2 linked regions of the Homo sapiens genome follow. The protein of the gene in region 1 interacts with the protein of each later gene in a pairwise test. Each region holds a gene or a part of one and is shown on either strand. Other genes may lie near its edges.

Evidence for each region. The genes of interacting proteins can lie anywhere in the genome.
Region 2: the proteins of CEP97 (region 1) and CCP110 interact in binary tests that used the Homo sapiens proteins (3 or more experiments, as listed by UniProt).

The regions. Positions count from the first base shown.
Region 1 is NC_000003.12:101,719,648-101,727,627, forward strand, and holds the start of CEP97 (centrosomal protein of 97 kDa), read left to right. Parts: upstream 1-4,966; 5' UTR 4,967-5,029; coding exon 5,030-5,072; intron 5,073-6,946; coding exon 6,947-7,089; intron 7,090-7,735; coding exon 7,736-7,894; intron 7,895-7,980. UniProt on the Homo sapiens protein: Acts as a key negative regulator of ciliogenesis in collaboration with CCP110 by capping the mother centriole thereby preventing cilia formation. Required for recruitment of CCP110 to the centrosome.
Region 2 is NC_000016.10:19,540,910-19,547,951, reverse strand, and holds part of CCP110 (centriolar coiled-coil protein of 110 kDa), read right to left. Parts: intron 6,066-7,042; coding exon 5,888-6,065; intron 5,332-5,887; coding exon 5,192-5,331; intron 5,075-5,191; coding exon 4,958-5,074; intron 3,156-4,957; coding exon 3,054-3,155; intron 2,859-3,053; coding exon 2,742-2,858; intron 2,136-2,741; coding exon 2,062-2,135; intron 1,541-2,061; coding exon 1,478-1,540; intron 1-1,477.

The sequences.
Region 1 (7,980 bases):
TGCACTGCAGTCTGGGTGACAGGGTGAGACCCTGTCTCAACAAAACAAAACAAAACAAAACAGAAACAAATGTTACCCAGGCATGGTGGTGGGCACCTGTAGGCAGAGGTTGCAGTAAGCTGAGATTGCGCCACTGCACTCCAGCCTGGGCTATGGAGCAAGACTCCATCTCAAAAAGCAAACAAACAAAACCAAAATTCTGTCTGTCCTTCTTTTTAGGTTGCTGGAAATTAACAAGATAAATATAAATGCAAATAAAAATATGAGACACCAGTTGAATTTGAATTTTGGATAAACAACACTTTTTTATATATAGCTATGTCCTAAATATTGCATGTAAGTATTGCATAAGATGTATATTGCAACATGAATACTTGGGACATACTTATACTAAAACATTATTCATTGTTATCTGAAATTCAAGTTTAACTGGGTGTCCTATATTGTTTCCAACAACTGTAACATAACCTCTTGGCATCTACTTGTAGGGATTTTGTGAAATTTAGAACCAATATATGTAAACTAGTTATCACAAAGCCTACCACATAGCAGGAGATAAATAATAATAATAATAACTGAGGAAAGTTAATCTCATTTGGGCCATCTGGATAACCTGTGAATATTGGCAATCTCTCTTTCCATGCCATAGGTTATAGATAAGGAAGCAGGACCGGAAGAGTCTACACATGAATATTAATCAAGAAAGGAGATATTTATAATTTTATGCACCTAAACCTTTGCATGAAGATTTTTTATTGTTAAACCAGGCATGGTGGCCGTCTATAATCCCAGCACTTTGGGAGGCCAAGGCAGGAGGATTGCGACATGGTGAGACCTCTGTCTACAAAAAAAACCAAAATTAGCCAGGTGTGGTGGTGTGCACCTGTAGTCTCAGCTACTCAGAAGGCTGAAGTGGGAGGATTGTTTAAGCCCAGGAGGTCGAGGCTGCAGTGAGCCAGGACTGTACCACTGCACTCGAGTCTGGGCAACAAACCAAGACCCTGTGTCAAAAAAAAAAAAAGGTTTTTTTATTGTTAAAATATTCGCATATTTTCCAAATCTTTACAGTGTCAAAATTCTTTACATTAGTAACTTCTTCATTTTAAAACTTGAATGAAAACTTCAAAGTTACATTTACTTCTTTCAAATATGATTTCAATCCTAATTAGAAAACCACCTTCATTTTCTCAAGGTAAATTGCACCATCCACAAATGTTCCAGTTTCTTGTCTACCTAGTCTCTTAACTTCGTGTTATCTAAACTTGTTTATAATACTCTCCTGAAACCGCTGTTGAAGGTTACCAGGCTCTATTACGACAATCTCCTTCCTGCCTTCTTCCTTTCAATTCTATTATTACTTTCAATTCATCCTTGTTATATGAGTTTAACCTTTCTACAACACAAGTATCATTATATCAATCCCTCACTCAAAAACACCAAATGAAAACGAGTAGGATGAACGGTGGGAGGTAGGGTGAAGCCACATTATGGTGGCCCTTGCAAGTTGAACTTAAAGTGAGAAGTTTTTGAGAGGGGAATAACATGCTAAAAGGCATTGTTTTACTTAGATCATGCCAGTAACTGTGGGCAGATGAATTAGAGATGGCAAAGATCGGGGTAATCAGCTGTCGTAGGGATTAAGTATACTGTGCTGATAGGAAAGTCTTTCTCATAGGGCCTGGGCCTGCCAGAGAAACATTACCTTACTGAGAGGTTCATAGTTTTAAGTAGTAGAATCCTAATTTGGTTTGAGCTTATAGAGTTTAACATATATACAAAATGAGGCAGTTTAAAGTGTAGCAATTTGATTTTAGGCGTAAAAGCTATTATTTGAAGCACAAAAGAATTTCTGTGCAGTAATTTTAAAGCGTTGCTGAGTCACTTGGGCATGTGAGACCTTGCCCAGGAACATCTGGCTACTTACTTTAAAAGCCGTGACTATACTTAGCTGCATAAAAAAAGTCCTTTGGTCCTTTCCTCTGGATTCCAGGGCAGATGAACCAGGCAAACAATGTTTCAGCTATTGCTGTAAACTTGCAGGAACCTCTGCTTCTTAAGTACCTTTTAAGCTTCCAGGACTCCCTATCAAGTAATTACCATGCTAAATTGTAAAGAACCATAAACCCTTTCTCCCAGATCCCTATGGCCTATTCCAGGGAATAAGGGTTAGCAGAGGCAGTATTCAGGCTTGCTTTGTTCTTCTTCTTTTGTTTTCTTTTCTCTTTCTTTCTTTTCTTTCTTTCCTTACTTTTTTTTTTTTTTGACAGAGTTCTGCTCGTGTTGCCCAGGCTGGAGTGCAGTGGCACAATCTCCGCTCACTGTAACCTCCGCCTCCTAGATTCAAGCGATTCTCCTGCCTCAGCCTCCCAAGTAGCTGGGATTACAGGCATGTGCAACTATGCCCAGCTAATTTTGTATTTTTAGTAGAGATGGGGTTTCGCCATGTTGGCCAGGCTGGTTTCAAACCCCTGACCTCAGGTGATCCTCCCGCCTCGGCCTCCCAAAGTGCTGGGATTACAGGCGTGAGCCACCGCGCCCGGCCTTACTTTGTTCTTACACATATAGTAAGATTGTGTTCTCTAGGTAAGGAGTTTCTTGGTTAAAAGGAAAAAAATCCTAGTCTTAATTGCCCCTTCAGAACTAGGAAATTTGTCTTTAGACCAAAGCAGCAGGAAACAAGAATCGAAAGGAGTTAAAACAAGTGTAGAGAGATAGGAGAACCCAGGAAAGGGGGAATGCTCAGAGAATCCAGTGCCTGGAAATCTAGAAGCATGAATTACTAGATTTTCCCAAGCAAAAATGATCAGACTTTGCAGATTGCTGTTTCAGAAAGAGGGGAGTTCAGAATAAAGGTTGCAAGAGGAAGTGGGAGAGCTGGTAGTAGAAAGCAGAAGTTTTTTGTATACTCTGTTTAGTTTCTCACTTCCTGTGAGCACAACTTCGTTACCACCTGCAGCCTGTGCTGTCTTTTCACCTTTTACTTTAGAACTAACTGTTCAGTCTACCCATCAAAAGATGGGTACATTTACTTCCTCCATCAAGTCTTCACTGAAGATTTCAGATTCTATTTCTTTCTCAATTCCCTGAAATATTAGTGAGCTCAGTCACAATCACACCGTTTAGCATATAATAGTTGCATCAAAAGAAGGCTCGGCGCCGTTGCTCACGCTTGTAATCCCAGCACTTTGCCGGGCTGAGGCAGAAGGATCACTTGAGCTCAGGAGTTCAAGGCCAGCCTGGGCAAAAAAAAATTGTCTCTAAAAAAAAAAAAAGAAAAAAGTGTGAGCCTGCTTTCTTCCAACTAGGCAATGTATTTCTTGAATTTGGAGACTATATAAAAATATATTTATATACATAATCTATATTTATATATAAATATATAACATATATAATATATAATATATAAATATATAACATATATAATATATAATATATAAATCTATAACATATATAATATATAATATATAACATATATAATATATAATATATAATATATATAACATATATAATATATAATATATAACATATATAACACATATAATATATAAATATATAACATATATAATATATAACATATAACATATATAATATATAAATATATAACATATATAATATATAATATATAAATATATAACATATATAATATATAATATATAAATATATAACATATATAATATATAATATATAAATATATAACATATATAATATATAATATATAAATATATAACATATATAATATATAAATGTATAACATATATAATATATAAATATATAACATATAACATATATATCTAAATATATAACATATATAATATATAATATCTAAATATATAACATATATAATATATAATATCTAAATATATGACATATATAATATATAATATCTAAATATATAACATATATAATATATAATATATAAATATATGACATATATAATATATCTAAATATATAACATATATAATATATAATATCTAAATATATAACATATATAATATATAATATCTAAATATATAACATATAATATATAATATCTAAATATATAACATATATAATATATAATTTATATATAATTATAATATATGCAATATCTATATAAAATATATATATTTTTGAGACATAGTTTCGCTCTTGTTGCCCAGGCTGGAGTGCAGTGGCATGATATCGGCTCACTGCAACCTCTGCCTCCCGGGTTCAAGCGATTCTCCTGCCTCAGCCTCCCGAGTACCTGGGATTACAGGCATGCGCCGCCACGCCAGGCTAATTTTTTTGTATTTTTACTACAGACGGGGTTTCTCCATGTTGGCCAGGCGGGTCTCGAATTCCCGACCTCAGGTGATCAGCCTGCGTTGACCTCCCAAAGTGCTGGGATTACAGACGTGAACCACTGCGCCCGGCCTGGAGATTATATTTTAAAGTTATTTTGAATACTCCCTGGAAAAGTTCTTGGTTCATACTTATACCCGTAAGTCAAAAGATTTGTCAAATATTCAAGAACAATCAAACAATCACTTAAAAATACTGTATAAAAGTTTCTATTTCGGCATACTTTACTTTTACTTAACTAAAATTTCAAATAAAATGTATCCACTTTTATGATCTCAACAAGATCGGTCATTCCTATAGCGGAGTTGAAAACTTTCAACTTATTCACAATTATCAAAAGAATGGAGCAGCCCCCACAGAGACTTCCAGCAATGAGTTGTAAAATGCAGTCTGCATTAAGTAGCTTCCTTACAATCATCCCGATGGTAAAAGTGTCAAATTTCGCAAACGCCTGGACAAGGAAGTGAAATGATCATCTAATAACGCAGTTGACTCATCTGTCAAATAAGCGAGTGGGCCAGGGTCCCTGAGCTCACTACCCTCAGATTCTAACTCCAGCTTCACATCATTAGGCGTAAGCAGCCAATTGGGCCGTCTGGGAGCCGTGCATCCTGGGAGTTATAGTTTCCGGCTCCCTCCTTCAGATTACAAGCTCCACAGAGCCGCGGGAGGACGGTTGCCTGGTATTATTAGCAAGCAGCAAATATGGCGGTGGCGCGCGTGGACGCGGCTTTGCCTCCCGGAGAAGGTAAGGCGATCCCTACCCCGAGTCCTAAGGTTTACTTCACGGAGCTGAATTAAATAGTGGAGAGCAGAAAACCTAGGTTTAGATGTGCAGTTCTGGACCAGTTCTTTTGATGCGGATCTGTGGTCGTCGCGGAGGCGGGCTACCCTCTGGGAGTTGTAGTTCACCTGCCGTTCCCAGCTCTCCGGCGTCGCGGTGAGGGCCGAGCGGGGGACTACAGCCCCCAGAAGCCTTCGCGCGGCCCGGCGCCCTGGCTCCCGCGCTCCCGATGCTGAGGAGGCGGTGGATTTCGGGCTGCGATGACCTTTCTTGACCATTTACTTTGAGTCATGGGTGCCTAAGCGAAATGTTTGGGATCTCCCTCTTTCGCTTCACACATCTCCCTCTCTTCTTGGTTCCTGGAACCATCAGGAAAACCTTCCCTCAGAGACCGCTGCCTAGTCTGGCTTTGAACCCTTCCTCGGAGGTGGCCAGTGGCCGTGATAAAATCTAAGGGATGATCCAGAGCCCGCAGTTCTGTACTCCTTGTTCTTGCACACGGGTCCTAGGATCGAGTTTGGTCGCTGCCCAGTAGAGCACAGGACTGTGTGGGTGCTTCTGTGGCCTGAAGATACCTACCTCTTTGGGGCGCCGGACGCGAGCTGCTTTTGTTTTGGTTACAGCTCCGAGGCTTGGCAGCAGTCAGTCCTCTAAATCGGGGACAGGGCCCAGGGGTCGAGGCCCGTCTTCATGGCTTAGACCAGGAGTGCATTTTCTGGGAGCTGTAAATTCTTGGGGGAAGAGTTGGTGGATGGTTCTCAGACCTCTCTGTCGACCCCTTGGAATTGTGTACAAAGGCTGTGCACTTTTCTGAGACAGCACACCCCTTTCATCAATTTTTCAGAGGGGCTCACGACTCCTCACATGCTAAGAGCCATTAGACAACGGGAAAACGTTGAAATCCTCCAGGAGAGCAATCTGGCATAATTATTTCCTGCAGTAGTCCTAATCTGGGTGTAAATTTGAAATTGGCCGTTTCTCTGGCCCCGCCCTCTTTGGAGATCGGCTTTTCTTAAACCACACCTCTCAAGCCCACCAGGGCTACTTAACTGTTAATAGCAGTTAACATTTACAGAGCACTTTGTATGACCCAGGCGATGTTCTCAGTCCTTTTTTTTTTTGTTTTTTTTTTTACATTATCTCATTTTCTCTGTAGAACTACATTTATAAGGCAGGTATTATCCCCACTTTACAGAGTAGAAAAGGGAGCCCAAAAGAAATCAATAATTTGCCTAATATACCACAATGGTTAATTGGTGGAGCCAGGGTTTGAACGTCTATGTTATACTAAAGTGCCTTATTGAGTGCCCGGTGGCAGGAACGGGGCTAAGTACTATTCATATGGTTTCTCTTTTAATTCTCATATCAAGCTAGGGAAATGGGTGTATTATCCTATTTTATGGGAGAATTAGTTGAACTATACTTTGATTTTCAAAATCACAGTTTGGGCACTTTAGGATATATTGGTAGTTAGGCTGTAAGCTGGTGGATTGCAGTCAAAAGTTTAGTAACATTTAAACAATAGTATCATTACTTAGGCACAACAAATGGAAGTAATCGTCCATATTTAAATGTGAAAATTTTCAAAGTATATCTTAGCAACTTGAGGAGAATATCACACGTCTAGTTTTAATTTGATATTTCTGAAGAAAAATGAGTAATTCAATCTGGTCATTTAGAACTCAAGATTGCTTTAATTTTACAATGTTGATATTTATTATGCTCTACTGTTCTTTAACTTGAAATGGTATAGAGATTTTATAATTCCAGCCCTATGCTTAGCTGTTGTACATGTTTTATTTTATTTGTGTTTTCTAACATTTCCGTTTCTTTTCAAGGATCAGTGGTCAATTGGTCAGGACAGGGACTACAGAAATTAGGTCCAAATTTACCCTGTGAAGCTGATATTCACACTTTGATTCTGGATAAAAATCAGATTATTAAATTGGAAAATCTGGAGAAATGCAAACGATTAATACAGGTAGGTATTGCAATCTGGGAAATGGTTACATAGGATCAATTTATTATTAAACAAAACAATAAAATAACCTGACAAAAAGTAACTGTGCAGCCCTAGCAAGCAGTCATTGTTGCCTTAAATTTTTACATGACAGTTTCTTCTGAAGATGAACATACATGTACTACATTGAGAGTAGATTAGAAAAAAAAAGCATTGTTAAGAAAAGGAAGCATTTTATTTTGCAAAATACTGTGTTACTAAGGTAACCTTTTACCTCATGATGGGGGTAAAGAGTTCATTCATTCCTTCATTCAAGAAATGGTTACTGCGTCCCTCTTATATGTCTGGCACTGTATTAAGTTTTGACTGAGAGTTTAACAGCACTATTCTTGTGGAACTTACATTCTCAAGTTGTTGCTGTGTTAAAAATGTCTTAGTAGTTAGAGGAGGTCTGATCGCTCAGCTTTATCTGTATTTTCTATTGCCCAGGAACAATAACAAAAAACTGATAGTCATACTGTAGAATATTTAGACAATATATGTGAAATGTACAAAAGGAGTTTGTTTGAGAGTGTTTGGCTGTCTAAATAAACCTTTTAAATCACTTTAATGTGAAATATTTTATATATGTTATTCCTAAAAATAACAATATGTTTCCTTTTTACAGTTATCAGTAGCTAATAATCGGCTGGTTCGGATGATGGGTGTGGCCAAGCTGACGTTGCTTCGTGTATTAAATTTGCCTCATAATAGCATTGGCTGTGTGGAAGGGCTAAAGGAACTAGTACATCTGGAATGGCTGAATTTGGCAGGAAATAATCTTAAGGTGAATGGTTTCTTTTTTGTTTACAAAACTATTCTGCGTAAAAAAAATTCAAGCAATGTAGAAATAAGTCAAATTAAAAAGTGAAA
Region 2 (7,042 bases), on another chromosome or scaffold:
TTGACAAATTAAATGAAAAATTAATTTAATAGGTTAAATTCCATTTTTTCCCATTTTCTTTCAACGGATGAAAGATGATGACTGTAAGGTAAAGGTCAACTATGCAATAATATGGCCTATATATTACCACAAATCAGAGCAAATCGACTAAAGCATATTAATATGATACTTGTATTTTGCTCACTAAGAGTCCAAACCTTAGGTTTTTATCAGCAAAGAAATGTCCAACATATAGACTAACCCTTGTGCTTTTAGATAATTTTCTTATACATATGCTTTACAAAAGCTAACTTTTCCCTTCAAACCAGTGAGAGAAGAAAGTATCACTCTCATTTTACAGGAGTAAAAAACAGGTCAGAAATATTAAAGTTCGCTTTTTAGCTTTATTTTTTATTTATTTATTTTTTTGAGATGGGTCTTACTATGTTACCCATACTGGTTTGAATTTCTGGGCTTAAGCTATCCTCCTGCCTCAGCCTCCCGAGTACCTGGGACCATAGGAGCATGCCACTGTGCCCAGCTTAAGTTAGCTTTTTTTTGAGACGGACCCTTGCTCTGTCGCCCAGGATGGAGTACAGTGGTGCAGTCTCGGCTCACTGCAACCTCCGCCTCCCAGGTTCAAACAATTCTCCTGCCTCAGCCTCCTGAGTAGCTGAGCAGGCACGCGCCATCATACCCGGCTTTTTGTATCTTTTATTTTTGTATTTTTAATAGAGACAGGATTTCACCATCTTGGCCAGGCTGGTCTTGAACTCCTGACCTCGTGATCCACCCACCTCACCCTCCCAGACTGCTAGGATAACAAGCATGAGCCACTGCTCCCAGCCCAGCTTAAATTAGCTTTCTAAGGTTTTTAAATAAGTATCAAAGATCCTCTGGACTGTCTAACTGAACTCAAGACATACCACGCTCAAAATTTCTACCACAGATAGCATGTCCTACAAAAGGTCCGGGCACATCTGGTCTGACATGTGACTAGGTATATGGCCAGGTATTGGTATGAATCTTGAGCCTGAGGACGACCCCCGACCCAATTCAGCAAGAAGTGCTCTACTGATGTCAAGTAGAACAAAGTCAACAAAAATGAAGTTTGGGATTTAAATTTTAATTTTTTAACTTTTTTTTTTTTTTTTTTTGAGATAGAGTTTCACTCTTGTTGCCCAGGCTGGAGTGCAATGGAGCAATCTTGGCTCACTGCAACCTCTGCCTCCCGGGTTCAAGCGATTCTCCTGCCTCAGCCTCTTGAGTAGCTGGGATTACAGGCATGTGCCACCACACCCAGCTAATTTTGTATTTTTAGTAGAGATGGGGTTTTCCATGTTGGTCAGGCTGGTCTCAAACTCCCGACCTCAGGTGATCCATCCGTCTTGGCCTCCCAAAGTTCTGGGATTACAGGCGTGAGCCACCGTGCCCAGCCAATTTTTTTTTTCTATAAAAAACAAAAAGCCTCTCATTAAGACTAAGTGATTTTTCTCACCTTGTTTCAGAAGGATTTTGTTTAACCAGAAATTTCTTATTTGGCATTCCCATTTCAGCAGCTCTAACACAATATAAAAATAAGGACATAATGTATTTAGAGAAGGGAAGAAAACATGCTTACAAATGTAATACAGGATGACAGAAACAAATCATCATTTAGAAGCTGGTGTACTACTGGAAGACCTGTACTAAGCATATTAAAGACTGCATTCAAGAAAGAAGAATTTTTTAAAAAAGTTATTAAGATATTTTTCCCATTAAGTCTTTATTCCCAAGAAACCTTTAGGACATCAGAAAAGGAATATATTTAGGCACTGAATATAAAGATTAACTGTTTTTAAGATTAACCAGCTATCAGTTATATGAGTTGAATGTTGTCAAATTTAGTAAATAAATTCATCTAAGATGAAATGAGATTTTAGCACCTGATTTTAATAAATTTCTTTATATAAAGGGGATTTCTATCAGCTCAACTGCAGAAAAATTAACTCTTTATTTCTAAATTTAAATATGCAAATAGACCAACAGATGACTAAAATTAATTGGTTTGATAACTAACATGACATGATACAAAAAACTTACTTCATGTATTTCTTCCTATCAAGAGACTTCTGTGTTGCAGCTGAAAGAGCCACTCGTGGACTTTTCATTTTATCCTTTAATATACAAAAGTAACGTCAAACTCTACTGGAACCAATTAATACCACTATATTATAATGTATTATAATCCCACATTGCCTGGAAAAGCTTCTCTCTACTAACATTTTTAATTTAGTTAAATCATCTTGTTTTGTATTTTTGAAGCAGTCTAATTCTAAGAATTAAATAATTAGAATTATGTAAATTTTGCTTGCTTTTCCTTTGCCAATCACACTAAGATAACTGATTCAAATCACATACTCTGATATACTTCAAATTAACTTGGAGCCTGTTTTCTAACTCAGATTTCAAAAAAAGCAAAACCCACATTATAATTGAATTCAAGGAAATTCAATCAGGAGCAGCTGATAGATTGTATAAGCCATCTGAGCAAAACATTCAAAGCTTCAACTCTAAAATCCAATAAGAAAACAATATGTAATTCTTAAATGATGTAATTCTTTTAAATCTGTCTACAGATTTAAATGCTGCTAGTAATTCCAGGAATTACTTGTGCTTAAGAATTATCAGAAGAAGGGTGCTGAAGTCAACCAAAACTGACATTTAGTATCAATTACCCTAAACCCAGAAGAACTCTATTCATTAGAAATCATATAACATACCATTTGCCTGAGCATTTTCTCTTTGCGAACTTCTCGATCATGATGTAGAATAGACATTCTTTCAGCTGCATCCATTACAAAGAATATGTCATGAATACCGTACAAGGCAGCTCGCAACTAGGCACAAGAGAAGAAAATATTGTATACATTTAAAAGATGAGGTTAGAGTTCAGGAATACTATATACCATGTACACTTATTTATAGAAAAAGATTAAAATAGTTTTCATTGAAACCTATTTTCAGTGATTAAATAAAAAAGGAGAAATATAATATGTCCATGTCTTAAAAGCCTTCAGGATCCATGTATTTACCTGAGCTAACACTCTTTCCTGAAGTGAAGCATCTTGAGCTGAAACAATGCCTCTCTTTAATGGTGCTTCTGACTGAAAACTTCTTATGAATTCCATAGTATCCTGAAAAAAGAAATGCTCCTTCAAAAACATTTTTCTAGAAAGATTTGTGATCACTGGAGTTTGCTTTTTTCTTTTTCTCAGTCAATCCAAAATTACAGTCTTTCGTCAGTATCTGTGGGGGACTGGTTCCATGAATCCCTCAGATACCAAAATCCAAGGATGCTGGAGTCCCTTATATAAAATAGTTATCTGCATATAACCTAAGCACATCTCCCATATACTTTAAATCATCTCTAGATTAGTTAAAATACCTAATAAATGTACATGCTATGTAAATAGTTGTTATATTGTTTAGGAAATAATGACAAGGAAAAAAAATTTGTACATGTTCAGTACAGACACAACCATCATTTGTTTTTTCTGAATTATTTTTGATCCATGGTTCGTTGAATCCACAGATGTGGAACCCAGAGATAGAGGACCGACTGTACTAAGAACATAAATAAAACTATTACTTATCAGAAGTCAAACCACTCACTTTCAAGCAAGTCAAAAACACACAAACTGCTTCATTTACATGTTATTCATAATATTATCTGAGAAAGATTAACGATTATTGGGGGGACCAGCCCCCAATATTTCAACATAGGTTCTTTCTATTTTTCATAAGTGTCAGCCAGATGAGAAATAAAGAGAAAGAGTACAAAGAGAGGAATTTTACTGCTGGGCGTCCGAGGGGGACATCACATATTGGTAGGACCATGATGCCCACCTGAGCCTTAAAGCCAGCAAGTTTCATTAAGGATTTCAAAAGGGGAGGGGGTGCAAGAACAGGGAGTAGGTCACAAAGATCACATGCTTCAAAGGGCAAAAAGGAGAACAAAGATCACATGCTTCTGAGGAAACAGGACAAGGGCAAAATCAGAACTACTGATAAGGGTCTATGTTCAGCTGTGCACGTATTGTCTTGATAAACATCTTAAAAGGAAACAGGGTTTGAGAGCAGAGAACTGGTCCGACCACAAATTTACCAGGGTGGAATTTCCCAATCCTAGTAAGCCTGAGGGTACTGCAGGAGACCAGGGCATATTTTAGTCCTTATCTCAACCGCATAAGACAGATACTCCCAGAGTGGCCGTTTATATACCTCCCCCCAGGGATGCATTCCTTCCCCAGGGTATTAATTATTAATATTCCTTGCTAGGAAAAGAATTTAGCAATATCTTCCCTACTTGCACGTCCGTTTATAGGCTCTCTGCAAGACGAAAAATATGGCTCTATTTTGCCCGACCTCGCAGGCAGTCAGTTATGGTTGTCTTCCCTTGTTCCCTGAAAAACGCTGTTATTCTGTTCTTTTTCAAGTTGCACTGATTTCCTATTGTTCAAACACACATGTTTTGCAATCAATTTGTAGAGTTAACACAATAGTGGTCCTGAGGTGACCTACATCCTCAGCTTATGAAGATAACAGGATTAAGAGATTAAAGACAGGCATAAGAAATTATAAAAGTATTAATTTTGGGAACTGATAAATGTCCATATTAAAATGAAATCTTCACAATTTATGTTCAGCAATTGAAGTAAAGACAGGAGTAAGAAATTATAAAAGTGTTATTTGGGAACTGATATATGTCCATATTAAAATGAAATCTTCACAATTTATATTCCTTTGCTGCGGCTCCAGCTGGTCCCTCCATTCGGGGTCCCTGACTTCCCGCAACAAACAATCAGACTTCTAAAACTGCCTAGATTACAGTGACTAAAAAGCGTTTAAGTTCTGAACTAATCTGTTAGCTCAGCTGTCACAAGACTGATAGAAACTAAGACAGAAGTGAAATACAAACGATTTACAGGAATCTTACTTTTACAGTTTGTCGAAGTTGCTTCAGCTTATCTGTCTGCATAAGTCTACGAGTAAGAAATCCTTTTGCCACTGCAGTTATTTTGTTAAATTTTGCTTGTATTTCCAGACTAAAAACCTAGGAGAAAGAAGACAGACACAATGTTTATTGGTGTTCATTTATACAGTCTAAGATAATATAGCTCTTAAGAAAAGATAAATAGATAGATGGACATGTATCATTAAGTTTACCCACTTGAGACCATCTAGTTTTGGCTCTTCCAAAAGGCCTTGTTACTGAGAGTTTGGTCAAGCCACTAGTTGATGATCCCCAGAGGTAGAATGGTGCTTCGTTTGCAGAAACAAAGCTATATTGCATGGCAGAATTTGTGAAACCTAGAGAAACATACATATAGTATTATACTTGATGTCATATAATTAGAATACGAAGAACATCCCAATAAACACTTGTGACACTCATTAAGAATAACAACTGCCTCCAAAAATGACCTACCTGCCGACTTAAAATATTTATGGACTTTAAAGCTTACATACCAGGTGGATCTTTTCAACACAAACAGCATCTCAGGATAATTGAGATATGAAGATAAGCTATTTAAAGGGACTAGGGAATTAGAGGTAATTCAAGATCACTCAGGAGAGAGCAAACTGTTTTCACTTGAAGTATATCACCTGCTGCATGAATGATCAGACTGGGCTCTAAGCCAAATTTCCTGATCTTTTCCTGGCAAAGGTAATCTTTGTTCACAAACATCTGCTCACAAGTCTTTGATCTCCTATCATGTCATTTTTCACTGGTTACTAAGCAGCTGGCAAAGAGGGTTGGACATGGAATCATTTGAAAACAGGAGATATAATCTTATAGTGTGCCAAATAAATATCTTACCGTAGGATCACTTTCCCAAATGTAAAAGGATTTTTAAATATTTACCAGAACTATTTGAATTTGAAGTATGGAGTGAGTCCGCTTGAGACAGCATTGTTTCCAGCAAACTAGAGTCACTTATTTTTCTCCATTCTAATTCCACTGCATTGTTAATGTCCAACTCAGAGGCTTCCGCTGTCATTGCCTTCTTCTCTTTTAACATTTTCTCCTGCTCTTCTATTTCCTATACATGAACAGTTTATTGTAACATGCTAAACCTTTTAATTATGTCCCAAAATGATATCATTTTAGGCTTAGCCAAAAGTACATGTAATTATCAGCAATTATTATTTATTTCAAGTTTTTCTTCCTCAAATTATCCTTCCTTCCTTCTCCCTTCCCTTCCCTTCCCTCCCTCCCTCTTTTCTTTTCTTTCCTTCCTTCCTTTCTCTCTCTCTCTCTCTCTCTCTCTCTCTCTCTCCTCTCTCTCTCTTTCTTGTTTCAAGAAACAGAATCTCGCTCTGTCCCCCAGGCTGGAGTGCAGTGGCACGATCTCGGTTCACTGCAATCTCCACCTTGCGGGTTCAAGTGATTCTCCTGCCTCAGTTTCCCAAGTAGCTGGGACTACAGGTCCATACACCACCATTTTGTATTTTTTAGTAGAGATGGGATTTCACTATATGTTGGCCAGGCTGGTCTCAAACTCCTGACCTCAGGTGATCCATCCACCTCGGCCTCCCAAAGTGCTGGGATTACAGGCGTGAGCCACCACGCCCAGGCTATAATTTAATATGTGATAATGTATAGTTAAATTATTAATTATAATAATATTATAACAAGTGTCGTTCTTTTTTTTTTTCTTTTTATAGAGACAGGGTCTCCCTCTGTTGCCCAGGCTGGAGTGCAGTGGCTAGACAAAGGCGAAATCATAGCTCACTGCAGCCTTGAATTTCTGGGCTCAAGCAATCCTCCCACCTCAGCCTCCTGCATAGCTGGGACTACAGGCTCATGATACCACGCCCAGCATGAGTGTCATTTTTATGATACAACTCCTGCAGAATGTGTACTTTAGCACCTATTTATAAAATACCTTTTTAAAATATTAAGCTTTAAATCAAGGATTCAATAAAATATTCTCGATAAATTATGCAATTACTTTTAGATAAGGATCTAAATATCAAAATTCATATTTTGACAAAAAATACCATTCACGTATCAAAA